Regions from separate parts of the Homo sapiens genome. Here all the other regions are linked to region 1. The links come from fine-mapping of genetic effects on gene expression. A gene starts in region 1. Each other region holds a variant in brackets. All regions are shown on one strand. Distances are between the middles of the regions.

Region 1 (10,689 bases):
TCTGATGTGTTCATACCTTACCTAATCCAGCACTGGACTGATCTTGGTGAGAAGAGTTAAGACTGATCTGCCAAGTATACCCTGGAGTGTACAAGCCAATAGGCAGAAAGCTAATTACGTATATCTTCACCCCTCAATAGACCATTATTGGACAAAGCCAACAAACACAGACAATGACAGTGCTGGAGGAAAACAACTGAAATACTAGGAATCAGTGTTTCAGTTAACTTACAGGCAGAGACAGTCCACTAATGTATCTCAGAAAAAGTGAAGGAAATTTAGGAATTTGGGAAGAAGTAAAGCTGAGAGAAGGTGAAACAGCAAATCAATGGTTATATTTAGCAATCAAACAGATGTGTTATTCTTGGCAGTTAATAAATATTTTGTGGGGCCAGAAATTTATTGTATTGTGAAATAAATTTCCAAATACAACTACAGAAACTGCAGTTTTTGGAAGGCAGGAGTCCAAACCAGCCAGGCGACAGTAACAGAGAAAAGGTAACTTCTTTCTCAATCCTAGAGTTGAAACAATGAGGCAGGATAATGCTATACAATAAAGAGCAAGAAGGGGCCCAGTGCTGTGGCATGCGCCTGTAATCTTGCGCCTGCAAAGATTAGGACTGCCAGAAAGCTACTTAGATACTTTCTCCCATGGCTTCATTACTGTGTATCTCAAAAATAAGAACCACTGATATGAGTGAAAGGAACAAAGTTAAAGAAGCTAAAAGTCCTATCAGAAGTGTGTGTGTATCATTTCTGAGTGAGAGCTTGTTGAAAAGATAAGTTTACCATTCATTTTCTCTGGAGAGCCATAAAAAGATTCTCTGTTAAATGGGATTCCTCTCTGACAGAGACCACGAACAACCCACTCAAATTTTAAAAAATAAAAACTAGGCCGGGCATGATGGCTCACACCTATAATCCCCAGCACTTTGGGAGGCCAGGGTGGGAGGACCACTTGAAGCCAGGAGTTCAAAGCCAGCCTGGGCAACATGAGACTCTCATCTCTACAAAAATAAATATTAAAAAATTAGTCAGGTATGGTGGCACACACCTGAGGCTACAGTGAGCTATGACTGTGCCACTGCATTCCAGCCTAAAAAAAAAAATTAATTAAAAAAAAGTAAAACTTTAACTTCCTAAATACATAGGAACCATTCATGTGAAAGAGGAAAAACGTTTCAAAAATTCCAGATTCTAACAGTGTAAATTAAAACTCTTACCTACCACTTATAAAGCCAAAACATTGCTAGTAAAGATCTCACAAAAGGAGCCATACAGAAATGCAAACAATAAAATAACATTTTAAATGCATTCAATCTTCTTCCATGAAATAAGAACTATGAAAACTATAAACCTTATTCAAAAATAAAAACACAATCTTGATATTCATTTCAAAGTTTCACACCAAACACTCTTTGATGAGACAATGGCAATCTTTAAGCCTGAGATAAATCTCCCTACCTGCCTGGTTTTAAGAGAGTGAGAGTAATCCCAGCACTTTGGGAGGCCGAGGTGGGAGGACTGCTTGAGCCTGGAGATGGAGACCAGACTGGGCAACGTAGCAAGACCATGTCTCTAGTAAAAAAAAAATTTTTTTAATTGGCTGGGTGTGGTGGTGGCACATGCCTGTGTTCCCAGCTACTCAGGAGGCTAAGGCAGGAGGATCGCTTGAGCCCAGCAGGCTAAGGCTGCAGTGAGCTGTCCTGCTACTGCACTCCAGCCTGGGTGACACAGAGACCCTGTCTCAAACAAAACGAAAGTAAACCAGGGAGAATAAAAAAGGAAAAAACACACAGCGTCTTGGGAGGTTAAGGGGATTATCTTGTGTCACAGCCATCAGACCAGCTGCCTACCCTTCTCCCTCCCCTTCTCCCTCCCTTCATGGAGTATCACACAGATGGTAGGAGTCTAGTGCAGTAAGTCTGCCTAATTTGGGTGAGCCACTGCTTATTGTTTACTGTCAAGATTTTTGTGAAAGGCTTATATGCAAAATGTCTTTTTACATGTATAATATAAAAAACTAAAACGTTGATCTATTTTGTTACTTATAGTTAAGTAAAAAGACATCCATAAGTATGAAGAATTACAAAATACAAAGAGTCAACACGTTAGTTTATTATTCCACCCTTTAAAAAAATAAAAGTGAAACTTTTAGTTCTATCCTTAAAAGCTTCAGGAATGGTTCCTAATTAGTCCATGACAAGTTGAGTGACACAGAAAACTTCTAATTATCTGAAGAGTTTACACCACCAAGTGGAAAGATACCTGGGCACTTTCAAAGGTGACTTCATATCTGGAACTCAATTTTCTTCCTACTGTAAGGTGGCGGGGGGGGGGGGACCCTGCAAACTGATACAGGAAACAATGAACCTGACTTGCAGAAGAAGAAGAAAACCTACATCAGGTGCCTAAAGGAAGGATGTTTCTGAGCCCGTAACTACCGGTACAGCCCTCTACCCACAGATATCCCTAAAGGGAACGCTTTTTTTTTTTTTTTTTTTTTTTTTTTTTTAAAATACGGAGTCTTGCTCTTGTCGCCCAGGCCGTAGTGCAATGGCACGATCTCCGCTCACTGCAAACTCCGCCTCCCGGGTTCAGGCTATTCTCCCGCCTCAGCCTCCCGAGTAGCTGGGATTACAGGAGCCCGCCACCACGACCGGCTAATTTTGTATTTTTAGTAGAGACGGGGTTTCACCATGTTGGCCAGGCTGATCTCGAACTTCTGACCTCAGGTGATCCACCTGCCTCAGCCTCCCAAAATGCTGGGATTACAGGCCTGAGCCACCGCACCCGGCAGTTTTGTCATTATTTTAGGCAACAGGATTCCTAGAGGGGCATACCTCTTACCTTTTGACAATCTCTGCCTGTACTAAGTAGAGCGGTATCAAGTCCTGGGGGAAATACCAGAATCCCGAGGCCTGCAGTTACACCAATTAACACGACCTCACTGTGCCTAGGGGGGTCAGAATGCTAGCTCAGGTGTTAGGCACCTCTAAATGCTGAGGCCATGAAATAGTGCTAAACTCTACCCCCCACCCCTCAAGCATCGTTGCTCTTTGCTTTAGCTACTTGTACCCTAAGAATGTGTAGGTAAGGGGAGGGGAGGGCAGCGTCCTCTGAGTTCTGCTTCGGCGCTCCTGAACTCACTGCCAAGAAAAGCTCAGATGTTGAGGGAGAGGGAAGAGGAGGAAGTTTGTTTCTGAAGAGGCTGACCTTCTGTGAACCCGCCTCAGAACTGAGCACAGGTGTTCAAGAAATGTATACCGAACTGGAGACTCAATAAATAACACTATTCAACACACATGTTATCGATTATGTGCCAGGTGCTATTTGGAATCGTTTCCACACGTGTCACTCGTTGAATCCTCAAGACAACCCCAAGAGGTGGGGACTCTTATTATCTCCATTTTAGAGTTAACTGATAACATTTCAGAGATAACTCTTATCTCCATTTAGAGATTAACTCCACTTCGAGCAAACATTTTAGGAAACCGGGTCCCCGGGACGTTTAAAAACTTGCTCAAGGTCACAGGGCTAGTCAATGGTGAGGGTGCTGTTTGAACGAAGCCACCCTGTCTCCAGATTCTACGCTATTACAAAGCCTCTCGGTCAAGAGAAATTAAGTTAGAAGATCCGAAATGAGTGGGGTCAATTGGAGACTCGAAGGAGGCCGAGGCCACCCTTTCCGTGTCCTGTAACCCAACAGGCACCTCTTGAGCACACCGACTTCGCCTGGCGCACAGCTGGGCCCGGGGGCGGGAGGTGGGTGTCGAGAAGGGGGAAGTTCACACGGACCTTGGCGTGATCCCGGTCCGTGCCGCTTCTCCCGAGGCCAGGAACGGAATGCAGGGCGCGGAGGCGAAGTAAAGGCTCCCCGGCTCCCCTGGCGCCTTCCACCCCGCTCTGGGTGGCCCGGCCTGGCCCGCCCTGCCCTCCGGCCCCGCCTCAGCCCCACTCGCGCCCCATCCCGGCCCGCCCGGGAGGTCTCACCGGCTTCTGAGAAGCGCCAGACAGCACGCGGGAGACGGCGGCGAGCATCTTCCTCATGAAGCACAGGCAGTGGCGGCAGCGGCGACTCCTCACAACCCAGGAGGCACGACGCGGGTGCCCCCAAGTCTCCTTCAGGTGCCCCAGCAGACGCCACGCCTCAGTCGCACCGCGGCGTGACAGAGTCGTAATAACGTCATGCGCTGCGCCGGGCCGCGGGCCAACCAGAACGGCGTCCAGGGGGTGCCCCGCCCCCGCTAAAGGCCTGAGGCTGCCCATTGGGTATCAGCGCCAGAGAGGGAGGGGCTGAGGGCTCTTTCCGACGCCACGCCGCGGGCGGGTGAGGAGGCGGGGCTTGATAGCGCCTGCGTGGGAAGGTGGGGCCCCCGCCTCCAGGGCGCCGCGGGAAAGGAGCCTTCCTAGATTCCGCTCTGCTGACTACCGGGGAGGTTGTGCAGGCCCCGTCCTACCGAGCGCCTACTCCTGCCGGTGCTGCAGCTCTGCAGCCCTCGTTCAGTACATCTCGTTCAGTACACTAGATGATGAAGATTAGCAGCATGCTCAGAGCCAAAAGACAGAACATCTGGTTTCTGTAAATGGTCTGCCACTAACTTTGTCTTTAAAAGATCACGTAGCAGTTGGACAGTTCTGCCCTGTCTACTTGAACGCGGATCAAAAAATTTGTTTCCCAATATATGTCGAGAGGACAATGGGAAAAATCTTTTTTCTCTAGTTATTGGTTCACAGGCTCACTGCGAGTTAACAGCGTGGCTCAGCCGATGATAAAAGCACACACAGAGACAAAACACCAAAGCAACAAGGGGCTCTATTCAGAGGATCAAAGGGCTCAGGAACCCATTGTGTTGTGTCCTAGTGGGATTGCACCTGGGGTTCCGGGTTCAGATTTGGGCTCCACATTTTAAGGGGGATAATGAGTAAACTGAGTGGAATCCAGGGGACAGTGGTCAGAACGGTGAGGGGCTGCGATTGTGACTTATGAAGAACGATTAAAGAAGTTAGGAAGAAAACAGGCTAACTAGAATTGGCTGGGTTATGATGTAACAACTGACCTCCAAATTTCAGTGATTTCAAGAATTTGAAGTGACGCGAGCCATCGTACTCGTAACACAGGTCCCTCACAGCGTGGCACCCTCTCTCTGGAACTTAGCTTGTCTCATGGATGAAGAGAAAAGGGATCATTTAAACCGGCTCTCAAAGCTTCTGCCCAGAAGTGACACATGTCACTTCCTCTCAATTTTCACGGACCAGAGCTAGTTACCCGACCATGTCTGAGTTCCACAAGGTGAAATATAATCCTCCTGCCAGGAGGAGAACAGAAAATTGGATGAACAGTAAAACCAGAGAGGATTGGATATGTCTTCACACATTTTCAGGCCAGTCATGTTCCAGGAGGAAGAGCTATTTTGTGTGTGTGTGTGTGTGTGTGTGAATAAAATCATTTCATTTCAGCATAACAATGAATTTTCTAACAATGACAATGGTCCAATGAGATAATTCTCTCCCAGTGTCACTGAAAGTATTCAAAGCAGAAGTTCAAAGCATGACCAGCTCTCAGCATAGCTAGAGAAATAATTTGGGCACTGGGCCAGACTCTGGACTGAGAGATCGTGTTGCAGTGGAAGAAAACTTCTTAAAGGAGTGAGAGGGCGCCATTAAAAGGCAGAGATGGACGTGAGAAACTTGCATGGTATGATTTCAGCAGCTGCTGCTGCTGATAGAATATGAAAGGTAAAAGAGAATGAAAAGGTTGGAGGCCAGATGTCCAGCTCAGGAGAAAAAGCTGGTCTGAATGGTTTGGGACATGTTGACCTGGTGGTGGCAGTGGCACAGCTATCTGAAGATGTCCCCCGGGAAGTTGGAGTTGTAAGTCTGGAACATTTGCTAAAAATATTAATTTGGGAGTCATCTCCACGGGGTGGTGATATTGGTTGTGCATGTACGGGAACTCTGTAGGCCATATGAATATGAATTCATTCATTCATTTGCTCATTCATCCAACACCTATTATTGAGCACCGATTTTGTGTCAGACACTGTACTACACACTGAAGATATAGCAAGGAACAAGTAAAATATAGGTCCTACTTAAATACATGATTGAACAAATCAATGGGTTAGAAGGAACAACTTTTCCTTACAGTAGAATTCCAATTAATTAATATAGAAGGAATGATGAAAATAGAAAAAGAAAATCACCATTTGGCAAAGACCACAGTAACTGTTGCAGGTGAGAATTATCATCAATACAGGCTAAAATTAGTGGGTAAATGTATGATGAGAAACAGGACATTTGCCTCATCTCAAATGATCTCTCCACTAGATTCATTACAAAGTTTAAAGTAACTTTGCAGTGCAGAAACAAAGTAACCAATTTTTCAATGACTAGGATATTTTCTCTGCACTTCTTGTTCTTCATATATATACATATATATACACACATACGTGTATATATATATATTTTATTTATTTATTTTTTTGAGACAGAGTCTCGCTCTGTCGCCCAGGCTGGAGTGTAGTGGTGCAATTTCAACTCACTGCAAGCTCCGCCTCCCAGGTTCACGCCATTCTCCTGCCTCAGCCTCCCGAGTAGCTGGGACTACAGGTGCCCGCCACCACGCCCGGTTAATTTTTTTTGTATTTTTCGTAGAGACAGGGTTTCACCATGTTAGACAGTATGGTCTTGATCTCCTGACCTCGTGATCCGCCCGTCTCAGCCTCCCAAAGTGCTGGGATTATAGGCATGAGACACTGCGCCCGGCCTCTTTTTTTTTTTTTTTTTTTTGAGACAGATTCTCACTCTGTTGCCCAGGATGGAGTACAGTGGTGACATCTTGGCTCACTGCAACATCTGACTCCCAGGTTCAAGTGATACTCCTCATTCAGCCTCCCGAGTAGCTGGGAAAACGGGCGAGCACCACCATGCCCGACTAATTTTGTATTTTTTTAGTAGAGACGGGGTTTCACCATGTTGGCCAGGCTGGTCTCAAACTCCTGACCTCAGGTGATCTGCCCACCTTGGCCTCCCAAAGTGCTGGGATTACAGGTGTGAGCCACCGCGCCCAGCTGTTTTCAGATATTTGAAAGCAGAGTTGGAAGCAACTTTGAAGGTGAGGGACACTGTGAGATGCTGTGTCAAGTGGTGACAGGTGATGATTGTGGTTAATAGTCATTAACTATAGGCTATAGTAACGTTATAGTAATGTTATAGTCATTAACTATAGGCTATAATAACTATAGGCTATAGTAACGCGCTAGAACATTCACAAAAGACTCTTGTATCAGGAGAGGAGGCCGGAGAGAAAGAAAGATTTGCAAAAGGCGGGAAGAGAAAGTCTTAAGAAAGGAGGGCTCGTTAATCTTGGGGGAAATTGTAATCCCAGCACTTTGGGAGACCAAGGCAGGAGGATCACTTGAGGCCAGGAGTTTGAGGCCAGCCTGGGCCACAAAGTGATACTCGTCTGTACAAAAAATAAAATAATTAGTCTGGTATGGTGTTGCATGCCTGTAGTCCCAGCTACTAGGGATGCTGACGAGGGAGGATTGCTTGAGCCTAGGAGTTTGAGGCTGCAGTAAGCTATGGCGGCATCGCTGCATGGCGGCCTGGGTGACAGGGCGAGACCCCATCTCTCTAAAAAACAAAACAAAAAAAACGTATCTGGGTGAAGCAGGGCAATTTTGATTAGAGACCCTGAAATATGCCTTTTTACCTTTCGTTAGCGAATCACCCTACAAGTATTCGATCAAGCTGAGCTTTAAGGCAAATCATGCTCCTTGACATGTCTCCGGTTTTCCAGTAAGAAACACCCATCCCCCAGCAGATGAATTAGAGTAGGACAATCATATACATGTGTCATAAAAGTCAACAAATCTTTGCAAATGTCTTTGAGGTACTAAGCAGCAGCTGGTGAAAGGATTATGGCTAGGGGTCATTTTAACTTTGGAACCATATAAATGTTTTTACACGACCATAAAACACAATGACATAACAATGGAAATGAAATATAACAAACCAATTTAATAACATACCAAGTTGTCAGCATAACCCCGCAGAGAATGATTTCAAGTTATTTCACACCACAGCAATGTGACTGCATATGCCTGGTGGGGTATAGCCTAAAGACAAAAGGAACTGGAAAAAAAAATCTTAAGGCGAGGCTCACACCTGTAATCCTAGCACTTTGGGAGGCTGAGGTGGGAGGATCATTTGAACCCGGGAGTTTGAGACCAGCCTAGGCAACATAGGGAGACCCCATCTCTACAGAAAAAAATCTTAAATTGTTCTCATTTGTCAGGTGTTATTATTTAAGACTGCACATACCCACACTGATAAAGTAAATATATAATTATGTTAATGCCATTGGGAACCAAGATTTTCAGTATAAAAAACAGAGACACAAATGTAAAATTCAACAGGTCAAAGCCAAGAGGTCCTGAATTTGAATTGGAAATATCAGTATAAACTCATGATTATTTCCCCCCCTCAAGATACACACACACACACACACACACACACATACATACATCTTGGCTAGGCTCGGTAGCTCACACTTGTAATCCCAGTACTTTAGGAGGCCAAGGTGGGCAGATCACTTGAGCTCAGGAGTTCAAGACCAGCCTGGGCAACATGGTAAGACCCTGTCTCTACACGATATAAAAAATTAGCCGGCCATGGTGGCGCATACCAGCAGTCCTAGCTACTAGGGAGGCCAAGGTAGGAGGATCACCTGTGCCTGGGAAGTGGAGGCTGCAGTGAGCCATCATCGTGCCAGTGCACTCTAGCCTGAGCAACAGAATGAGACTGTGTCTCAAAGCAAAAACGATGTGTGTGTGTGTGTGTGTGTGTGTGTATGTGTGTGTGTATCTTAACTCTCTCCACTGGAAATACCTAGAAGCAAAGACCAGCCCAATAGTAATTATTCTGAAATCTGGCAAAGGGAAAGAACCAAGGATTTATCCTGTCTTTCTTACATAGACTGAATTTCAATGTCAACAAACAGTTGATGAGGAATAGTTCTTTATAGAATAATTTCCAGCAGTAAATAAAAAAGGAACCATATAATTTTAATATCCCTGTGTTGTAACCCCTGAGGAAGTACTAGATCAAGCTGTTGGGGGATTTGTAATGTTTGGGCGGCTTTAACAAAATACGTGAGACTGGGTAACTTATAAACAACAAACACTGATTGGGCTTGATGGCTCATACCTGTAATCTTAGCACTTTCCGAGGCTGAGGCAGGTGGATTGCTTGAGCCCAGGAATTTGAGACCAACCTAGCAAACGTGGTGAAACCCCATCTCTACAAAAAAGACAAAAATTATCTGGGCATAGTGGCAGGTGCCTGTAGTCCCAGCTACTTGGGAGGCTGAGATGGGAGGATGGCTTGAACCCGGGAGGTCGAAGCTGCAGTGAGCCACGATTGTGTCACTGCACTCCAGCCTGTGTGGCAAAGCAAGACCCTGTCTCAAAAAAAAAAAACAACAAACAACAACAACAATAAAAACCAACCAAACAAACAAACCCAGACATTGATTTATTATGGTTCTGGCTGTTGGGAAGTCCACGGTCAGGGCATTCAGTGTCTGGTGAGGGCCTTCTGGCTGAGTCCTCACATGGCAGAAGAGTGGAAGGGCAAAAAATTGCCTGGGGTGTTCCCTTCAACCTCTTCCATCAGGGTGCTAATTCCATTCAAAGGGGCCTGGGGGAGTGGGGCAGAGCTCCATCCTCATCATCTAATCACCTCCCAAAGGCCCCGCTTCCTGATACCCTCACATTGGAGGTTAAGTTTCAGTAGATGAATTTTAGGGGGCACATTCAGACCTCAGCACTGAGGAGGAGACCTTCTAGCTGTGGTCTGAGCGCTGAGCACGAGGTTGGCAATAGATTGTCCTGGTCCTGTTAGACCTCATTAAAGATTTAGACACTTTTCCTAAGAATAATGGGAAGCCAGAGAAGGATGTTCATGTCAGCTTTGCATTTTGTAAATATGGAAGATGAGCTGTGCCCTCTCATGACAGGATCCTAAAGGAAATTAATGGAAGGAGGTGCCATAGTGTGTTCAGGAGAGCACGGGGTTCCTGAATCTAAGATAGGTGAACCACAGTGAGTATGAGCATATCTTTCTATATGATTTTTAAAATAGAGACAGGGTCTCGCTATGTTGCCCAGGCAAGTCTCGAACTCCTGGGCTCAAGCGATCCTCCCACCTCAACCTCACAAAGTGCTGAAATCAAAGGCATGATCCACTGCACTCGGCCCATCATGTCTTTCTATTATCCAATGGAGATATGTGGAAAAATACATATTTTAATAGGGAAGATTTTAGGCACACACTGATGAGTCTGGCCTGAAGTTACTATCAATCATTTTCTGTGGCTGATCCCCAAACGGAAGCAGCCTTTGGAAACCTAAGAACTGTCCTACGGAGAGGCGGCCTAGCATCTGGACTCTGGCACCAGTCTGCCTGGTCTCAAATCCTGGCTCAACGACTTACCAGCTGTGTGACCTCGGGCAATTTGCCTAAACTCTCTGTGCTTCGGTTTCCTCGTCTTTAAATGGAGCATAATGACAACATTCATCTCATAGGGCTGGCTGTCATAAAGCTTATATGGATTAATATTTGTCAGGCACTTAAGACAGAGCCCCATCCTTAATGAGCACTATACTAGAATCTTGTGACTAT
Region 2 (10,689 bases), 56 kb after region 1:
ATAGTACATCATTTCTATAGGATCCCCAGGGCTCATCTGTCTGTGGGTATAGGCAGAAGCCAGAACAGTCAGTGCCTATACTTTACTAACTCTTCCCCGCTCCTGCTGATATGGAACCTGTAGCCTAGAGCTGTCCAATAGAACTTTCTGGATGTTGGAAATGTTCTATATCTGTGCTATCCAATAAGGAATATGCAAAAAATGTACTAGACTCTTTTGAGCATAGCCTCTTTTGTGCCACAAGTCTCTTTTGAGCATTTGAAATGTGGCCGGTACTACTAAGGAATGGAATTGTTACTTTTAGTTAATTAATTTAAATAGCCACATGTGCTAGTGGCTACTATAGTAGATCGTGCAGCTAGCTCTTGCAAACCCTACTTGGTTATATCTGGGAATATTTATGAACTTAAATACAGGATTTAAGTTAACTACCATTTCTATCATATACTACTGTTCCACAGGCAATCCCTTTGTGATTTTGACCATGGTCCACAGGAAGGGATATATTTTACATAATGACCCAGTACATTTATACATGTATACTCACACATGCACACATACTTGCATATACATATATGCCTACTTCCATAAAACACTACTTGTGAGGCGCTCTGATTTTTTAATCCTATTCTAGTCTATGAAAAACTGCTGGTCATGAGCCACCAATTTATTTTCATGACCCACTAACTAATGCATCAAGCCCCACAATTTGGTAAGTACTACCCTAGGAATCTATCTCGTCCCACTGGGTGCTTGTCTTTCTACTTATGGCATCGAAGTCTTGGCTGGGTGTCACTGCTGCTTGGCCAGGGGCAATTCCAGGCTCATTGGGGTCCCTGTAGTACCAGAGAAGTTGTCTGCAGTGGACAAAGGGGGAGGATGCCCATCTCTCCTTTATGTCTCAGTCTGTTAGAGGGCTCCCAAAGCATGCAGCCAATATCTTAATTTCTTAAAGGTTCTTAGTGAAACAGCTCTTTCGGCTTTCATTCATAGCCCTCCAGCTCACACTCCAGCTGTGAGTTTGCATTGGAGGTTTAGAGGTATGAAAATCTCAGTGGCAGACATCCTGCTGTCCTCAGAATCGCTTCTCATCCTTCAGCTTGTGGATTGCCTCTCCTGCCTGATGACTAAGGTTTCCCACTGGGCTCAGTGTGTCTGGGATCAAGTTCTCTCTCTGGAGGCTCCTCAGCCCACATGTAGCAGCCATCTGGTGGGCCCGACTTCCGCTTTTCCTGACTTACAGAAATTTCCTAGACTCGAGGAACTTGATAGGTGTTATAAAAGAAGTGTGCTATGGGACCACGGTTCAGTTTGTTCTATGTAGAACTGAGGGAGCCTCAAAAAGGGATAGAGAGGAGAAAAGACAAGGATCGGGTAACAGGTTAAGTTAGTCTCAAAGGATCAGTGGAAGCTTGCAGGAAGACAGGAGGGACTGTCTGTGACCTTTCCACCTTCCCCAAGTCGAGTCAGTAGCTTTTCTGTTTCCACCACATTTTGTTCATACCTCCATTACAACTTCTCACACTTTGTTTCCGTCTAGACTTTGAGATTCTCAGGTACAAAGATCATTCTTTTTTCATCTTTGTATCCTTAGAAACTAACATGAGGCCTTTTGTATTGTAGACAGAAGTAGCCACTGAGTGAATAGACAATGACGCTTGAGGCTTTCGCCCTGAGCCCCAGGGCACTGGTATATTAAAGTGGAGCTCATCTGCCTACCTCTCAACATGATGTCTCAAAGGAAGTAATGTTGTAGACCCCGAAGTGGAAATATTAGATAGTATTGTTATTTTTCAAGATCCATCAGGCCAAGGGTGACGGTGAGTTTCTGCTAAATCTGCTAAGCATGTCAGTAAGAATACATCCAGGTGCCTGGACGGATTGATGGCAAACAAAACAGGTAAAGTTCCTGCATCCGTGGAGCCTTCTGTCTAGTCAGGGATGACAGGCAACCAACGAAGCAGTGACAAGGAGGTGTGACTGGAGACGTACAGGTGGCTGTAAGAGAACAGAAACCAGCCTAGGGAAATTAGGGGGCTTCATGGTGGAGAAAGATGAGGAGTGACCCCATGACAATGATGACCTGGGCAAAGAAGGAAGGAAAGAGTATTCTGGGAGAGGGAATAGCAGATATGAAGGCCAGAAGGCATGGTGCAGTAAAGGAACTGAAGAAAATTCTGCAGAGAGCATTGCATGTGCGTAGGAAAGTAGCAAGAGGTGAGGCTGGAGAGAGCATTGCATGTGCGTAGGAAAGTAGCAAGAGGTGAGGCTGGAGAGAGCAGCACAGGCCAGATGTTAAATGACAAGCCCACCATGGAAAGAAGCGTGCCGTCCAACCTAATGCTAATGGAAAGCCAAGGAAGGGTTTTAGGAAAGACTATAACCTGATAAGATTTGTGCTCTAGGATAGAAAACAGATTGTAGGAGGTCCAAGACCAGACACTGCTGCAGGATCCAAGTGAGGTGTGACAGTGGCTGGGAGGCACCAGGGTTCATCTAGCTGGTGGAATACGCTGGACCATGCAGGGGCCTCATGAGTGCATTAAGTACCTGGGAGGAAGAAAGGGAAAGAACAATAAGGGGTCTGTGGGCTCTAACAGGGGATACAGGGCACTGACGGCAAACCTGCTTTATCATCTGTGCTAGCTCTAGATGAGTGTAAAAGCTGAAGTGGATTCCCACGAGGGAATCGGCTTTGCTGGTAATTGCTTTCAGAGGCTCCAGGCCAACCCCAGGTCCTCTTCTAAGTGCCCTAGAGAGATGGATAGATTTGTCCTTCTGAAGACTTCCAGGGTAGGTTTGGGATCATCAACAGCAATCTCAGAACCATCCCAGGATTTCTGCTCAAACACTGGATCTTTGCCTCTAGCTATAAAATAGACCAAATCCATGGCGGGATGTGGCAACCAACCACGTCTTTTGAACTCAGGAAGTTCAGCAGCCAGGCTCATGGCCTGTATTGGTATATTACATCCTGTTCCCAATCCAGACCCAAATCCTAATGTGTAGGGAAAAAAAAAAGAAGATGCATTTCAGGCCTAAATTGGTCTTTGAGATTGTCTAGTATGGTCTCCTGAACGAACTTTCATGAAAATCAGACTACAAACCTAAAGCAGTTCTTTGATCAACTTCCTTTCTGTTTCATTTCCTGGATTTCCATGGAAATCTGTGATGAAAGAATGATTGCTGTTCTGCTTCCTGCAAGTGTTCACATTCTCACCTCTTAGTAACATTTACTGGGAATACTATAAGCAAGGAAACCCAGGAGGAAGAGGTGCAGACAGAGTTGATGATATTTAGAGGGACTCAATCTGACGGTACTTCTGGGGTCTGCTGGAGACCCTCATTTATACAGCTCGCCCCATGCACAGAGCATCTGAAGAACATCATGGCCATGGGAAACTGAGGTCCTGTGGGCTAGTGGAAGGCCGAGCACAGGTTGAAGCAGTGTGGAAGAGAAGTTTTGGCCCCGAGACTGACTCTGGCAGAGCACACTGCAGAGACCATTTTTGTGCTTTTGCTTCACTTCACTTTTCAAAGATTGTTTGAGCTCATCTTGGACATTTGGAAGCAGCTAAATCTAGCAAGGAACAGGATCATTGGCTTCTTCATCTAACAGTATTTGTGTCTGCAGCTGCACTGCCTTCTGAGCACAGGTGTGCAGAGCGTGATTAAGTGACCCCAGAAATCTGACCGCCTGGGTGTGGTGGTCATTTTTCCACCCTGATGCAATTATCTCAGGGTGTGGGGACGCTCTGTCCCACTCCCTTTTTTTCTCCCCTGCCACCAAACTCTGGATTTCAGTTAATTGTGAAAAATAACAAAGAAGTGTTATTTTTTATGCTGTTTTGCTGTTTATGCTGTTGTTGTTGATTTGCTTCTTGAACAGCTTCCTCTGATCCCTTTTCAAAGTCGGCCGAAAAAGCAGGAAGCCAGGCAGGACAAACTTTTGAAAAAGTCTTTCAGCACCTTCGTGGATCCGAATTTTAGTGTGATTTGGCAGGCAATGCGGGGTAACATGTTCCAGTGTTTTAACTTGCACAGAATTGCCAGATTAGCGATTGTTTGACTTGTCCAATTAATGAAATGTGGAAAAAAAAAAAGGGTGGTAACTGTTAAGCCTGCTGCAATGTCTAGACACGAGGGTGGGGGTGGGGAGGTGGAATACCAAGGGAGGCGACACAGAATTTCCTTGCCTTTTGGTTTTCTCATACTCAGTATTTCTGCCGTGGCACAACACCACGTGGGCCAAGATATTGATAGGTGAGAGATAATGTTTTGGTTAAAGTGAAAAATAAAGTTTCAGGCTATATGCAGGAGACATTTCTCATGTAAGCGTGTTAAAAGAGAAGCTGCAATCACTTAGCCTGCAGGGTAAACACACATGTGCATAAATATACTCTACAACCATGCCAATCCATCCAGAAGGGAGATGCTCGGGGGAACTTGGTTTTTGGAGAGAAGATTTGGGGTTCAGGAGAGCTTGTAAATGTCACGCAGGCACTTTGTGACCTTGTGTTTGGGTCACAGGCAGGGTGGGTATTGTGACATGCAGGGTTATAAGATAAATATGCCAACTGACTCATAGAATTGGGAGGACAGGCAATATAGGGGATTGTGAATTAATTAATTTTTTTTTTTTTTTTAGATGGAGTCTTGCTCTGTTGCCAGGCTGGAATGCAGTGGTGCGATCTGGGCTTACTGCAACCTCCGCCCCCCAGGTTCAAGCGATTCTCCTACCTCGGCCTCCCAAGTAGCTGGGACTACAGGCACGTGCCACCACACCCAGCTAATTTTTGTATTTTTTAGTAGAGACGGGGTTTCACCATGTTGACCAGGATGGTCTTGATCTCTTGACCTCGTGATCTGCCTCCCTCGGCCTCCCAAAGTGCTGGGATTACAGGTGTGAGCCACCGCACCCGGCCATGAAGAAATTTTTACTCTTAGTGCCTTGGTGTCTCTACTGCCCAGCAAACTTCCTTCAAAGCCCATGATGGGCAGAAAAAACCCGAGAGAGAATTAGACAAACATCTAAGGGTTTGGGGTGAGATCCCCATAGGCAAAAATCAAAACAAAACCACTTATGTTTAAGTATAGATATAAATTATTACAACACTGTACATAATGGTTATTATGTACACAGATGCAATTACATGTACTCTACCTCATTTGCGTAAGTTTAAATTAAAATTTAAATGACTGAATAGACTTTTTTTTTTTTTGAGACAGGGTCTCGCACTGTCACCCAGGCTGGAGTGCAGTGGCGCCATGTTGGCTCACTGCAACCTCTGCAATCTCCGCCTCCCAGGTTCAAGTGATTTTCGTGCCTCAGCCTCCTGAGTGGCTAGGATTACAGGCGCGTGCCAACCTGCCTGGCTAATTTTCATATTTTTAGTAGAGACGGGGTTTCACCACATTGTCCAGGCCGCTCTCGAACTCCTGACCTCAAGTGATCTGCCCACTTCAGCCCCCCAAAGTGCTGGGATTACAGGCGTGAGCCACCATGCCCAGCCTGAATAGGCTGACGTTTATGCATGTTGGGCAAAGGCTTTCCCTTTGCTTTTATTCAAAACCAGGTGGGCATCTCCCTCCCTCAGTCTCTCAACCCCCCAGGACCCTCCTTACAGACCCACATTAAAGGCAAGTACGCAAGCCTCGATTCTCACGCAACAGGCCCCAGCAGCATGGAACAGACAGCAGAACTTGACCTTTCCCCAACCCTGCCCTAGCCACAGTAGCTCCTATCCTCAGCGTCACTTCACTCCCTTAGGTGAAGGAACTGTTATTCAGAGAAGGAAATCCACGTGTAGAATGGCTCTGAGGAAATGGGACACATGAGAGGAAGTTTTCATTGGTGTCCAGGAGGAAGAAGCCTGGGATAGGTGCTACTGCCTAGGATGGCAGATGTCACAAAGAATAACCTTGGGCAGTGGGGGAAGTAGAGGCAAGAGTAACCTAGAAGCCTGGAATAGAGGAAGGAGGTGTGGGAATCAAAGGGCCCTGGGGGGAAAAAAAGAAATGGAACCACCGTATTTCAGAGTTAGGAAGAAAACCTTGGAGAATATTTTAGTCCAATCCTTTCATATTCCAGATGAGGAAACCAAAGCTCAGAGAGGTTAACTGCTTTGTTCAAAGTCATGAGGCATGTGGTAACAGACCTAGAATTAGAATTGAGATGTCCTGTCTCAAGCCTAGTAGACTTCCTACTGTGATGAAATATTAAATGCATTAAAACCACAACACTAATATTGAGTTAATTTGTAATTCAAAGGAACTGTTGTTTCTTAACCAACTAAATGCCCTATTGTTCCTCATTAAGAAATCAGATAATTCTGAATCTGGACCATTCCATATTTCTCTAATGGAGTTTTAATGTAATCACACCAGATACTATGAGCAGATAATGAATGTAGTAAATTTTAAATCATTTCATTA[C/T]ACACTAATTTGTTTTACAGAATCAGATTCATGCTTCTTCTTTTTTTTTTTAAGCACAAAATCACAAAGTGATTTTGCTAGACAAACTTCAAAAGACTGGGAAAGACTTTGTTTCTAGTATTTCCAGCTAAGACTTGAAAAGCCTAGAGGCTGGAAACTGTATAGAAGAGTCAGCTGGTTCTGTCAAGGCTTCCAGTGTAGTTTTGGCACCTGTCACAACTTAAGCCTTGTTTGGACCACATGAAATATGATGGATTTTTTTTATTGCTAGCAAATCATTCAGGCACTATGTATTAGTCCATTCTCATGCTGCTATAAAGATTACCTGAGACTGCGTAACTTATAAAGAAAAAGAGGTTTAATTGACTCACAGTTCTGAATGACTGACGAGGCCTCAGGAAACTTATAATCATGGCAGAAGGCGAAGAGGAAGCAAGGCACATCTTACAGGGCAGCAGAAGAGCGAGAGGGTGCAGGAAAAACTGCCACTTTTAAAACCATGAGATCTTGTGAGAATTCCCTCACTATCCTAAGAACATCATGGGGGAATCTGCCCCATGATCCAATCACCTCCCACCAGGTCCCTCCCTTGACACATGGGGATTACAATTTGAGATGAGATTTGGGTGGGGACACAGAGCCAAACCATATCACACTATAGAAGCAACATCCTCTTTTGTGCTGGGCTAGCAAATTGGTTAGACTTGCCTCATTTTTTCAGAATGGCCAAAGTCCTTTCCAAATCCAAAACTTTGGTAGTGATTCTACCCTACTATGATTTATCTTCATCTTTAAAGAGCTATACTCCATGATTTTTAAACTACTAATTTGGAAGGTGCTAACTGCTTAGAAAACAGGGCTTAAGACACTTTATTTCCTCTCTTAAAACTTGTTTTTGTTTTGTTTTGGGGTTTTATTTTTTTGAGACAGAGTCTCACTCTGTCACCCAGGCTGGAGTGCGGTGGCATAATCTTGGCTCACTGCAACCTCTGCCTCCCCGGTTCAAGCGATTCTCCTGCCTCAGCAACCCAAGTAGCTGGGATTACAGGCATGCATCACCACGCCCAGCTAATTTTTGTATTTCTAGTAAGACGGGCTTTCACCACGTTGGCCAGGCTGGGGTCTCGAACTCCCGACCTCAGGTGATCCACCCACCTCAGCCTCCCAAAGTGCTGGGATTACAGGTGTGAGCCACCGCGCCCGGCCCCTCTCTTAAAACTTCTTATAAATAACTAGGACTTGCACGGCAGAAAATGTCAACAATCAAAATTTTAGTTTCTAAAATCTCTAATTTTTTCTTGCTTTCTATTCAATCTCATTTTCCCTCTTTCAGAGATTCCTATTTTCCAGCACTGACATGCATTAATTATTTTCAAAACTGTGTGTGTATATCTTTTCTGTCATTTCAACAGCTTTGAGGGTAGAAGGGAAAGCTGGCATGTGGGTTCAGTCTGCTTTCTTGGTCTAATCATTGTAAATCACATATAAAATCATTTTTTTGAATGATAATCTTGAGGAGTCCAGAAAACTGAACTCAGTTGATCTGATACAGGCCATGCTAAGGTCTGTGTTCTTTAGTTACAGGACCAAAAGACCCATTCTGGGTCCTTGATTCTCTACAAGGTATACCCAATGACAGCTATTTCCAGTCAAGACTCTCTTCCAAGGATGATTGTTCATGGCCTCCACTAGAAACCTTTATAGAAATATTCTTGTGGGGCAGCGAATGACCAGCTCTGTCTTGCCATCCATTCTGTGGTGAACGTGAGAAGACAATGTGACTGGAAACAAGAATAGCCATGTGGAGCAAGGTCTAGTTCATGGTGATCCTAACAATCACATGTGGTCCAGGGTTACACCAGGATTCTGGATTACATAACCTAAATCTTCTTTAATAACCACACAGGAGCTAATTTTGTATCTAAAAACAGTGGGATTTTTGGATGAAATATATTGTTGCGTGAATATGCTCTTTTTCATTTTTCTCCTCAGCGCCCCCACCTCTGAATCGTGGGGCATTTAACTGACAGTAAGGAGACAAGTCCTTAACTTGTCTTAACCTCTTGGTGACAGGGAAGATACTGCTAGATACCTATACTCAATGCCCATTTTCTCTTTGATGACACAGACTTCTGTTCTGGAAGGCAGCGTGCCTAGCTAAAAATACCCTTCCAGATTCCCTTGCAGTGAAGTAAGGCCAGGTGACACATTGTAGCTGATGGGACCTGAACAGATGTCAACAAGGGGTTTCTGGGAATGTGACTGATATTCTGATATGGCTGCTACCCCCACCTCCCTGTCTTGTTGATGCTTTCTTGCTGGAATGCAGACATAAGGCTGGTGATGGAGTCACCATCACATATTCACTGGGTAACAAGCACAGTATGGAAAACCACACTCTAAGGATGGTGGAGTTCAAAGTGGAAGGATCCTAGGACATTGCTTGCAGATCAGATTGCCAACCTCTGAATTCCACCGATGTGAGAAATATACCCCTATTTGGACATATCACCACAGTTAGGCCATATGCAGCTAAACACAATCTTAAATGATGTTATTCAGTCAATTCACCTACAAACTTTGAAATTTACTACCTATTCCCTAAACTATATCCTAAAGGTACTGATGAAAATTACGTAAATTCACTTTAACAAGTCTTGAACATATCTTCTCAATAATATGAGGCATTAAAATATTTTAACAATTCCCAAATGGCAATACATGTTTAAGAAAATTTGCCAGCCTTTAGGCAAAGCAGCAAGTTGTGATGTGATTGTGATTGTCTATGCCATGTATAGAAATGATCTGACCATTTAAACATTATGTTGGTGGTATTTGCATTTGTAATATCAGACATGGTTGAATTTTAACTTAAATTTGGTTTCATGATTGTCACTGAAAATTTTTAAAAGACGACATGATGCAGTTTTAAAATGAAAAATGTCTACACAAGAAAATTGCCTGACATGTTACATATAATAGAATTAAAAGAGGTAGAGATTGAGAAATTTCTTGGACCAGATCATAGAATTTTCCAAGCAAGGAAATGTTAGTGGAATTGACTCATCAATCATAAATGTTACTAAGATGCTAATGTCTATCAGTAAATAAGCTTTCTACTGATATCTAAGAGAAATTACTTAACTTCTGGCGATGTATCATTCAATTAAAGAATAATGAAACTTCAAGTTTAACTAAATAGGAAATGCAGACACAACTCTGTATCCTTTGATACGCTTCACAATTGCAAAGGTTTAGTGAGCAGACTCAACTTTAATGGGGTATAAAAAGGAAACAATTTTCCTAGTAACTTTTATCAATCAATGACTGTTGATTCCCCCTTTGCCACAAGGTATCAAGGGCTCTTAATGGTATTTCAGTGTTATCCAAGAACCTTCCAGTGACTTTTTGGTTATTAGAGTTGTGTCATTTTATTTTCACAGACTTGGTCCTGTTCACCTGAGTGTGAAGTCATTTGTCTCTTCTCCATCCCCAAACACCAACAGACTTATGGTTCCATCGGTAAACATTTTTGTGTATATATATTTTTTCCTTTGAGAATTTAAGTTTTTTATTAGCTGGGCATGGTAGCACATGCCTGTAATCCCAGCTACTCAGGAGGCTGAGGCACAAGAATCACTTGAACCCAGGAGGCAGAGGTTACAATGAGCTGAGATAGTGCCACTGCACTCTAGCCTGGGAGACAGAGCGAGACTCTGTCTCAAAAAAAAAAAAAATTAACTTTTTGAATTAATATTATATCTACTTGTTTCAAACATTTAAATACACTATATAAAATATGTAATTTAATATATTATAAATATATAATCTATCATATAATATATAATTTTATATAGAATATACATAATTATATAGTTTTATATTTATATATAAAATTATATAATTTACATATTTTGTATGTATATATTATATATGTGTATTATATATAAAGGTTATATAGCAGAAGTCTCCTTCCCACTTCCATCTCTCACTTATTTTCCACTCCCTGCCCTCCTATAGTTATCATCTTTCACTGTTATGTATATCCCTCCAGAGTTGTTACACACGTACAAACAAAGGTAGCCTCTATATACAATGTTCTGCATCTTTCCCTTTGTTTGATAATGCATCCTAGAGAGTTTTACATGTCAGTACATACAGACCCTCCTCATTGCCTTGCTCTAGCTGCATGGATTCCCTCGTACAGCTGTACCATAATTTATGTAACCAGTTCTCAATTGATGGGCATTTGAG
Region 3 (10,689 bases), 240 kb after region 1:
ACGTGAGCCACCGCGCCCAGCCTATACTTTAATTTTTTTCTAATAATTGGTTTCTATGCTGATTTTTTCCTTTACCAACTACCTATATCATATCATCATTTTAAAATATCTTAAGAATTTTAGCTTGCTTTTTCTTTTCCTGCCTGCCCCCACCATCCCCACCCCCAGCTGTATTTCTTTTGAAATGAAAAAAAAAAAAAAAACAAAAAACAAAACTCCTGGAACTGCTGAATGTGTTTTGCAGATATAGAGGTAAAGGTTTACCACCCGAATAGCTTTAGAATGGTACAGGCTTATTCAGCACTGATTCCTAGTCTTGCCAAGGAAAAGTAAAAAGGACAAAGAAAGGAAGAAAGAAGGAGGGTTAAAAAACTAAATTATGCTTTATTTTGTGGTGTATTGGTTGACAGTAGTATTTTTCTCTGTCTCCTCTCAGCTAATCTGGTCATTTGACCAACTGGATAGAGCAAATATTGTCTGAAATGAAGCAAATACATTCCATTTGATTTTGGTGGGAGACAAATTTTTAGGCAGGGAAAACGATTAGCAGATAGTGTCATGCACAGCAGTGCCTTTCAAATGCCAACATGCAAAACGATTGCCTGGGGATCTTGTTAAAATGCATATGCGGATTCAGCAGGTTTGGGACTGGCCAGAGATTTCTGCATTGCAGCTCCTAGGTGAGGTGATGCTGCTGTTGGGGCGGGGGAGCTGCACTTTGAGTAGCGAAGCTTTAGAACATAGCTGCCTCCATGTTCCTGGGGATTATATGGAGCATTTGCCCGTTGCCCACTGATGGATGATAAACAGCTCTCCCAAGTACCCCTCTGGGCTTGTCCTCTCAGCACTGCCGGCAGAACCAGGTTGTGTGTAGCCTGCATTAAAGCAGCAGACAAAGCCCAGGGCTCTTCTTTTTTTTTTGAGACAGAGTCTCACTCTGTCACCCAGGCTGGAGTGCAGTGGCATGATCTCGGCTCACTGCAACCTCCACCTCCCGGGTTCAAGTGATTCTCATGCCTCAGCCTCCCGAGTAGCTGGGATTGTAGGTGCCCGCCACCACCGCCCAGCTAATTTTTGTATTTTTAGTAGAGACGGGGTTTCACCATGTTGCCCAGGCTGGTCTCGAACTCCTGGCCTCAAGCGATCTGCCCACCTCGGCCTCCCAAAGTGCTGGGATTACAGGCGTGAGCCACTGCACCCAGCCGCAGTGCTCTTTTTTTAACCTGGAATAGCAACTTCTTTCAAATCTCCCTCACCTGGACTCTCCTCAAATATCTCATAACACCTGAAGAAAAACCACTAACCTCAAACACACGCCAAACCGAAACACACACACACACACACACAAACACACACTATCCCAGATACTGACATGGAGAAAGGAGTGGGGTGGGGCAGGCATTAAGCCACTCTTTTTTCTCCTGGCTTCACTATCGCACACTTCCTCATTCATTCCAGAGCAACTAGGTGTCTGTTTCAACATCCCTGGCCCCACCATTATAGTACACACCAGTCACCTTCCAGCCACGAGCTGCACATTTCTCTGTGGGGGCCCTCTTTACACATCCATGCTGCAGGTTGGAAGTGCCAGGGAATTAACAGCTCCCACCCCACCCCAGGAGCAGCCTTCAACCAATGCCTGATGCAAGTCAGTGGATCCATACCCTCAAGTGGGATAATTCAGACCGGTGTTCTACACTGGCTCCCAGAATTCCCCAGAAGGACTAAACTCCCATTGCCCCCAGTGGTGACTGGCTTGATAACGCCATCTATTGGCTGCCTTCCTGCCCCAACTCACGTGTCCATTCTATCTGTGTTTCCTGGGGTCACAGCCCAGATAAACTACTTATCTCGAATATGTGCCAAAGAGTTACCTTCTTCTTCTTCTTCTTTTTTTTTTTTTTTTTTTTTTTGAGACAGAGTCTCGCTCTGTCGCTTAGACTGGAGTGCAGTGGTGCGATCTTGGCTCACTGCAACCTCCGCCTCCCAGGTTCAAGTGATTCTCCCAACCCAGTAGCTGGAATTACAGGTGCACGCCACCATGCTAATTTTTGTATTTTTAGTAGAGACGGGGTATTTCAGCTAATTTTTGTATTTAAAAAAATTTTTTTTATTATACTTTAAGTTCTGGGGTACATGTGCAGAACGTGCAGGTTTGTTACATAGGTATACACGTGCCGTGGTGGTTTGCTGCACCCATCAACTCATCACCTACATTAGGTATTTCTTCTAGTGCTTTTCCTCCCCTAGCCGCCCATCCCCCTACAGGCCCCCGTGTGTGATGTTCCCCTCCCTGTGTCCATGTGTTCTCATTGTTCAACTCCCACTTATGAGTGAGAACATGTGGTGTTTGGTTTTCTGTTCTTGTGTTAGTTTGCTGAGAATGATGGTTTCCAGCTTCATCCATGTCCCTGCAAAGGCCTATTTAACATGGCCTAAATAGCAACTAATTATAGTTGGATGATTGTCACTGCCAAATAATATTCCACTGCATGACTACCATGGTTTATCCTTTCTACTGCTGATGGCCTTGTGTATAATTTGTACTACAATAAAAGTTTAATTTAAAAAATATACATAGACACATTGGATCCACTTTCATGGATGAGTCAAAGAGAATAACACTCAGGCTGAGGCAGAAGGATTGCTTGAGCCCAGGAGTTCAAGACCAGCCTAGGCAATATGGGAAGACTCCATCTCGAAGAAGCAGCAGCAGCAGAAAAAGAAAGAAGGAAGAAGAAATACAAAACACATAATTTTTGTATTTTTAGTAGAGACGGGGTTTCACTATGTTGGCCAGGCTGGTCTCGAACTCCTGGCCTCAAGCAATCTGCCTACTTCGGCCTCCTAATGTGCTGGGATTACAGGCATGAGCCACCACGCCCAGCCTTGGAGTTACTTTTTTTTTTTTTTTTTTTTTTTTTGAGACAGAGTCTCGCTCTATCACCTAGACGAGAGTGCAGTGGTGTGATCTTGGCTCACTGCAACCTCCACCTCTCGGGTTCAAGCGATTCTGCTCCCTCAGCCTCCCAAGTAGCTGGGACTACAGGCACCCGCCACCACCCCCAGCTAATTTTTGTATTTTTAGTAGAGACGGGGTTTCACCATGTTGACCAGGCTGGTCTTCAACTCCTGGCCTCACTCAAGTGATCCACCCACCTTGGTCTCCCAAAATGTTGGGATTACAGGCATGAGCCACCACACCCAGCAGAGTTACCTTCTGAAGGAACCCAACTAAGGCAAAACTGGTCAACAGTCAGGAATTCCTTTTGTTAATTTTAATAAAATCCTATTATAAAAAAAGGGGGAGCCCCATGGGGTTTCTTCTGAGGGGCATCTCACCAGTATCTAGATATTTTGTCTGCGTGACACCAAACAGTCAGATGGCTGGAAATAAGCCTGATAATGGAGAGAATGCTTCTCTGTTCCCGGGCTGTTTTGGGATCTGGTCAACAGAGTTGATTTTCTGGACACCCCAGTCAAGCTAGTTCAGGTCTTTTTGACCTGTACCCAGAGGGTGTATCTCTGAGTTCTGCCTCAGAAGCTTGATCACATCCCGGGGGCTCCTACAAACCACATCCTGGCTGCAGCCAACTCCCTTCCACAGGCCTCCCTCACTGAGTTTCTCTGTGGTGGGTTCTCTGCATAGCCTCTTGGGATGAGGAGTCCTTCTCAGACCTTTACAGAACAGAGCCCCTGACACTCAGTTTCAAGGGCCTACCTACATCCGTTTCCGAAGCTTTGCATCGATGGTCACTGCTCCTCTTAGCCATGTCCTCAGCTTTCTCCTCCTCCTGCCTTCTTCCCCAGACTGAAGTGGATCTGAACCTTGGCACAATCTATGCCTCTTAGTGCATTTTAGGGGATTTTAGGGCTGCCTGGGCCCCTCTATATGTTCAGACGTGTGATAGGACCCAGCCTTTTCCCCTCAAGACCTTGTATTTGAAATTCCCCATTCTATGGTTTGTCTCATCTTTGGAACCCACAGCAGGCAGAGATGTTTGGGAGGGTGGCCTCACTGGGCACACTGTCCTGGATGTCTCACAGTTTTGCATACCTCTGCCAGGCTGTGCTGCCCCCAGGCCAGACTCCTGTTTCTCTGTTTGGGCATCTTGGGGGTCCTAATTAGACACTTAGTCCTTTGGATTTGGTATTTTGAGAGTACACGTGGTATCAACAGGGCTAGCTTTAATGTTAAAACATCTATTAAAACAATAAGGGTGGATGGCTAGGTGACTGCTACTGTTACTAAAAGAGGTCCCGATCCAGACCCCAAAAGAGGGTTCTTGGACCTCATACAAGAAAGAATTAGGAGCAAGTCCATAGAGTAAAGTGAAATCAAGTTTATTAAGAAAGTAAAGGAATAAAGAATGTTTGCTCCGTAGGCAGAGCAGTGGCATGGGCTGCTCGACTGAGAATACTTAGAGTTATTTCTTGATTATATGCTAAACAAGAGGTGGATTATTCGTGAGTTTTCTGGGATGGGGCAGGGAATTCCCGGAACTGAGAGTTCCTCCCCTTTTTACACTGTAAAGGGTAACTTCCTGATGTTGCCATGGCATTTGTAAACCGTCATGGCGCTGGTGGGAGTGTTTTTAGCATGCTAATGCATTATAATTAGCGTATAATGAGCAGTGAGGACAACCAGAGGTCATTTTTGTCGTCATCTTGGTTTTTGGTGCATTTTGGCTGGCCTCTTTACCGCATCCTGTTTTATCAGCAGGGTCTTTGTGACCTGTATCTTGTGCCGACCTCCTGTCTCATCCTGTGACTAAGAATGCCTAACCTCCTGTGAATGCAGCCCAACAGGTCTCAGCCTTATTTTACCCAGTCCCTATTCAAGATGGAGTCACTCTGGCTCAAATGCCTCTGACACTACCCTGTAACTTTCTTAGTCAACTTGGGCTGCCAGAACAAAATACCATAGATTGAGTGGTCTAAACAACAGAAATTTATTTCTCTTAATTCTGGAGGCCGAGAAGTCCAAGATCAAGATGCTGGCATGGTCAGGTTCTGGTGAGTTCCCTCTTCTGGGTTTATAGACAGCTGCCTTCTCACTGTGTCCTCAGTTGGCAGAGAGAGGTGGGGGAAGCGGGGAGGGAGAGGGAGAGGGAGAGACAGGTTACCCTGGGGGTTAGGGCTTCAAAATATGAATTTGGCAGGAGGGACACACAAGTCCACAGCAATAACTGTGCATGACTCCACCCCCATCTCCCCACCCCCACCAGTATCTCATCTGTTGATCTGGCTGAAATCTGAAATTCCACAATTAGAGATTCATTTCCTTGGTTTAAAGTGTTATAATTTAAAT[G/T]AGCACAGAACCTGGTCGATGGGCCTCCATGCGAGGCCTTCTCCTGAGAGCCAGTGAAAAAGTATGAGGTCACTGGGCACCTACAAGTTGGGAATGGCCCCCACCTAGAAGACACAAAGAGTACTAAAGAGGAAATTGATTTTCTTCAAGTGAGGTGGGCTTGTTAACTTTGCCAAGGCCTGTCCTAGTCCTCAGAGTTATGTTCATATCAGTTCCTGCAAAATACCCCTTAAAATAAGAGAAATGAGTCCTTCATCTTGCTTTTTTGCATCTATGAGTGATGTGAAAGACATTGCCTTTTAAAGAGGGAGTCCAGGCCGGGCGTGGTGGCTCACACCTGTAATCCCAGCACTTTGGTCTTGAACTCCTGGGCTCAAGTGATCTGCCTGCCTTGGCCTCCCAAAGTGCTGGGATTACAGGTGTGAGCCACCACACCCGGCAATATTTTCACCGCAATACTTCATCTTCCTCCCCTACTAACATCCAAATGGTACCTGAAGTAAAGCGAGCCACTTCTTATGGCTTGTTATTGCTGGGAACAGCTGCTTGTGGATAATTAGCTCAGGCAATCAGAACACTGGGTCAGGAAATCAGGCACGTGGGTCTGACTCCTGTATGGCCTTTGCTCTTGGGGACCTGTTGAGGGTGGGTCACTGCTGGTTCAGTATGTGCTGCATGTGGAATTCCATCCCCTTTGAACCTGTACCATTAATGGGGTAACAGCTGGAGGTGCTTAACTTTGGCCCTGCATCAGTTTTCAAAAGTGCATAAAGGTAAGCACTATCCTGAAACTGTTGTTTATCTTTCTCATACATTTCTTTTTTTTTTTGAGATTGCGTCTCACTCTATGGCCCAGGCTGGAGTGCAGTAGCTCCATCCCAGCTCACTGCAGCCTTGGCCTCCTAGGCTCAAATGATCCTCCCATCTCAGCCTCCCAAGTAGCTGAGACTACAGGTGCACACCACTAGGGTCGGCTAATTTTTGTATTTTTTGTAGAGAAAGAGTTTCACCATGTTGCCCAGACTGGTCTCGAACTCCTAGACTCAAGTGATTCGCCCACCTCGGCCTCCCAAAGTGCTGGGATTACAGGCGTGAGCCACCGTGCCTGGCTATCCTTCTAATACATTTCTTTATATTTTCCTACATAGGAATATGTCCTTAAGCAAGAGAGAATGCTACTCGCATGCCTTTTAAGCTTTATAAGATTGGTGTGTTTTTTACTTTCACATTTTGCAACTTTCATCTCATTTAATACTATTTTTGTGAGATTGATTCTCTTGGCTACATGTAGCTCTAGCTCATTTTTCTTCCTTTGCTTTATCCACAAACCACTCCCAGAGAACAACTGAACTCACAGTTGCCAGGGTGGGGGAAGAGCAGGAATTACACACACACACACACACACACACACACACACACACACACACAATCTCATGATTAGTTGATTTGAAACACACCTCAAGCTATTCTCATAACTAAATCTTAATCCAACCAATAATTCCTTTAGATTTTAACCACTTAACTTTGGAAATTGTTTTATAAAGCTCTAGTTCTTCCATATGTTCACAACTCACAAAATTGGTTTTGCAAATAATCCTTTTACCCTTTGCCCGCGAGGAATCGCAAAGCTGAGTTTGCTTTCATTTGCCATCGCTTTTCTTCCCGTTTTCAGATGTCGTTATCTTTCTGTTTCCTTTTTTACTTGGCATAGATTTGCCTTCCTTTCCCAATAGTATGTCCAACTCTTTCAAAACCTCTCCATTCATTCAGCCATGCATTCTTTTCACATATGTTTATAACATCCCTAGTATGTGCCAGGCACTTTTGCAGGCACTGGGGACTCAACAGTAAACCAAGCAGACAAAACTTCTGCCTTCGGCAAAGAAGCTTATCTTCCAGTGAGTGAAGCAGACGGTATTTGAGTAAAATACACGGTCAGTTAGATGGTGTTAGGTGGTGTCTGTGGAGGAAAATGAATCTTGGGAAAGAGGCACAGGAAGCCGTGAGGGGTTGCAATTTTATATAGCATTTTTCTAGGCCAGGGGTTGGCAAACCATGGCCCAAGGCCCTCCATCTGTTTCTGTAAATGAAGGTTTATTGGAACAGAGTCACGCTCATTCACTTACATGTTTTCCATGGCTGCTTTTGCATTGCAACAGCAGAGTTCAGTCATTGCAATGGAGACCATTTTGGCTGCAAAGCCTAAAATAGTTCATATTTGGCCTTTTACAGAAAATATTTACTATTTGACCCTTTGCAGAGGAAATGCAGATTTTTACCTATGATAACTTTTGAGGATTCTACCCATGTTGTGCTTTTCAGCTTCTAAAGCGTTGTCAGGAACACGATGTCATCTGAGTGTTGAAGTAGTGTTTGTTATGAGGTAGGTCTCAGTAGCTTTGTTTTACAGGTGACTCAACTGAGGCTTGAAGGGGTTATTATGGTTGTCCAGGGTTGCTGACCTTGTAAAGTGGTCGTGTTTTTTGGTGTTTTTTTGAGACAGGGTCTTGCTCTGTTGTCCAGGCTGGATGCAGTGGCATGATCATGGCTCACTGCAGCCTCAACCTCCTGGGCTCAAGTGATCCTCCCACCTCAGCCTCCCAAGTAGCTGGAACCACAGGCATACACAACCATGCCCAGCTAATTTTTGAATTTTTTGTAGAGATGGGGTTTCTCTATGTTGCCCAGGCTGGTCTCAAATCCCTGGGTTCAAGGGATCCTTTCAGCTCAGGCTCCCAAAATGTTGGGATTACAGGCATCAGCCACTGTGCCTGGCCTAATGCTGGTGTTCAACTCTAAAAGCTGGTGCGTTTTCTACTTTCCAGTGACAAATACAACCCAGGTTTTTAGCGTGACGAGCTTCTAAGCACATGAAACACAGATAGGCAATCACGTGTAGGTGTCACGAATGTGGGCTCAGAAGCTCAGCAGCCCAAGTTCAAATGCTTGTTCTGCCACTTACCTTTGTGACATCAGGCAAGTTATTTAACCTCTCTGTGCCCTGCCTCAGTTTCCTTGTCTGTAAAGCAGTCATAATTGTATGCCTTCTAGGTCAGGTGGTGCTGTATCTTGGTTTTGCCAAGGCAGCTCTGATTTATGCCTGTTTTTTCCACATTAATCAATAGTGCCCCATTTTACTCTCACATACCCCCATTTGGACATTAAATTATGTGCATGCCCTAACCAGGGTCGTTGCAGAGATTAAGTGAGTTAATACAAATAAAGCAAGTTAATACAAATAAAGCAGTTCAATCCATGCTGTAGGAAGCATTTGCTAGACTTTGGCTGTTGTTTCTTGTCAAGGCCATGCCAGCCCATCACTTAATTTTTTTTTTTTTAACTTTTTTAGATGGAGTCTCGCTCTATCGCCCAGGCTGGAGTGCAGTGGCGCGATCTCAGCTCACTGCAACCTCCACCTCCTGGGTTCAAGCAGTTCTCCTGCCTTACCCTCCAGAGAAGCTGGGATTACAGGCGCCTGCTACCACGCCTGGCTAATTTTTGTATTTTAGTAGAGATGGGGTTTCACCATGTTAGCCAGGCTGGTCTCGAACTCCTGACCTCAAGTGATCTACCTGCCTTGGCCTCCCAAAGTGCTGGGATTATAGGCATGAGCTACTGTACCTGGCCTCACTTAATTTTCTTCTGACCCATTGCTTTGTCCCATTAAGTCTGAACTGATTTCTGTCTGGAGCAATTTTGCTTATCTGGGTTAATAGGTGATTGAGGATTCATCTTCTGTGTGGCAGTGCCTTCTGGCTCACTCCCTGACCTCCCTTAGCAGCTTTGCTCAGATGTCATCTTCTCATGATGGTGTCACAGGACACCTCTCTAAAATTGCTACCTCCCCCACCTCCAACACACTTCATATCCACTTCTCTGCTTTATGTGTTTGCTTTATAGTTATTACTAACATACAGGTTTTACTGAGCTACTACTGATGTGGTTCTGTTTTGCTGTTACTTGGATAAAAAAAAAATCCTACAAAATCTGCTATGCCTGTGAGAATATTTATTTTTATGTTTTAAAAAAATGTATCTTTATCATTACATTTTCAGAAATTACAGAAAAACCCAGTAAAAAATTCAGCCCACCCATGGTCCCCCCTCCAGTTGGCATTTTGCTGTGTATCAAGAATACAGCAATTTTACCCCACCTCTAGAGGGAGTACATTTTCTAATCTAACCATATAACTTTAGCTAAACAGCTTACAAGCAAATGACAGTTTACTATGTTCTCTAAGTATTATTTTGATTCCTTTAAAAGGAGATTTTTCCTACACATTTTCATCTGAAGCTGGCCTAGGAGGAAATATAAACACACTGGTCTAGCCTAGTCCCATCTCTAGAAGTAAAGGAAAAAAAAAACATAGAAGAGAAATTGAGTGAAAAGGCATGTTCCCTCACTTGCAGTTAGCTTTCTGGCACGGTGGCAAAGCATTGGCCTGGCGCCTGCCAAAATGAGCATCTTAATAGAAATTATCATGTGTGACATTCCTTTGAATTGCTAACTTTCTTTGTAATATTGAGCAAGTTGCTTTTTGCATCATTGATATAATTCATCTTCTTATGTGTTTGCTTTATAGCTCTCTTTAAAACTGTCAGTGTTTCACAGATTGATCCATTTGCGTTTTTATTTGTTTGAATGCCGCACTGGCACGTACAACCCAAAAGGGCACAGTTGTGTGTGTCTTGTTCACCACTGCACTCCTAGCACCTCCCGTAGTGCCTAGCACATGGTATTTACTTAATAAATATTTGTTGAATGGGAAGGTGCCTGAGCACAGCAGAGTACGCTCACCCTCGATGCAGTGAGGGTGTCCTGCCACCGGGGCCGGGGTGGGGAGGAGATGACCCAGTATAAGGTCCTCAGCTGCGAGAGAATGAACCTCCAAAATGTGGTCTTGGTCCCTCAAATAGCATTCACACTTTCTCCCCCAGGCCCCGGATTCCTGTAACAAAGGATAAGTCATTAATTCAGTCCTCCGAGTTGGTTTAAAGAACAGATGCCTTTGTTTTTTTTGAGACGGAGTCTCACCCTGTTGCTCAGGCTAAAGTGCAGTGGCGCTATCTCGGTTCACTTCAACCTCCACCTCCCGGATTGAAGCGATTCTCCTGCCTCAGCCTCCCCAGTAGCTGGGATTACAGGCACCTGCTACCACGCCTGGCTAATTTTTGTATTTTAGTAGAGATGGGGTTTTGCCATGTTGGCCAGGCTGGTCTCGAACTCCTGACCTCAAGTGATCCACCCGCCTTGGCCTCCCAAAGTGCTGAGATTACAGGCGTAAGCCACAACGCCTGGCCAAAGAAGAGATACCTTTTGAGAGAGGAAGCTCAATAGGACCTTCACACGAAGAGGTCAGGTGTGATATTAGCTCCATT

Which allele goes with the higher level. Alleles are on the strand shown, and positions count from the first base shown. SD is a standard deviation of normalised expression in the study named. Not every link is listed here.
With allele C in place of T in region 2, the expression in skeletal muscle of the gene that starts at base 4,161 in region 1 is lower (small effect, 0.25 SD a copy in GTEx).

The links. PIP is the estimated chance that this variant, and not a neighbour inherited with it, causes the effect.
Region 2: its variant is fine-mapped to the expression of PDHA1 in skeletal muscle (GTEx, PIP 0.93).
Region 3: its variant is fine-mapped to the expression of PDHA1 in esophagus muscle (GTEx, PIP above 0.99).

The regions. Positions count from the first base shown.
Region 1 is chrX:19,337,399-19,348,087 of GRCh38, reverse strand. It overlaps PDHA1 (pyruvate dehydrogenase E1 subunit alpha 1), which reads right to left and starts at 4,161. Exons shown (of 11, transcript NM_000284.4): 1 at 3,994-4,161. The coding sequence starts at 4,050.
Region 2 is chrX:19,281,698-19,292,386 of GRCh38, reverse strand. No RefSeq gene overlaps it. Among named protein-coding and RNA genes, the nearest start is that of PDHA1, 57 kb to the left of the region's middle. RefSeq lists enhancers at 388-888, 889-1,389. The variant C/T (reference allele first, on the strand shown) is at 6,436.
Region 3 is chrX:19,097,152-19,107,840 of GRCh38, reverse strand. The region is part of intron 1 of ADGRG2 (adhesion G protein-coupled receptor G2); the gene reads left to right. Among named protein-coding and RNA genes, the nearest start is that of ADGRG2, 20 kb to the left of the region's middle. RefSeq lists an enhancer at 219-848. The variant G/T (reference allele first, on the strand shown) is at 5,312.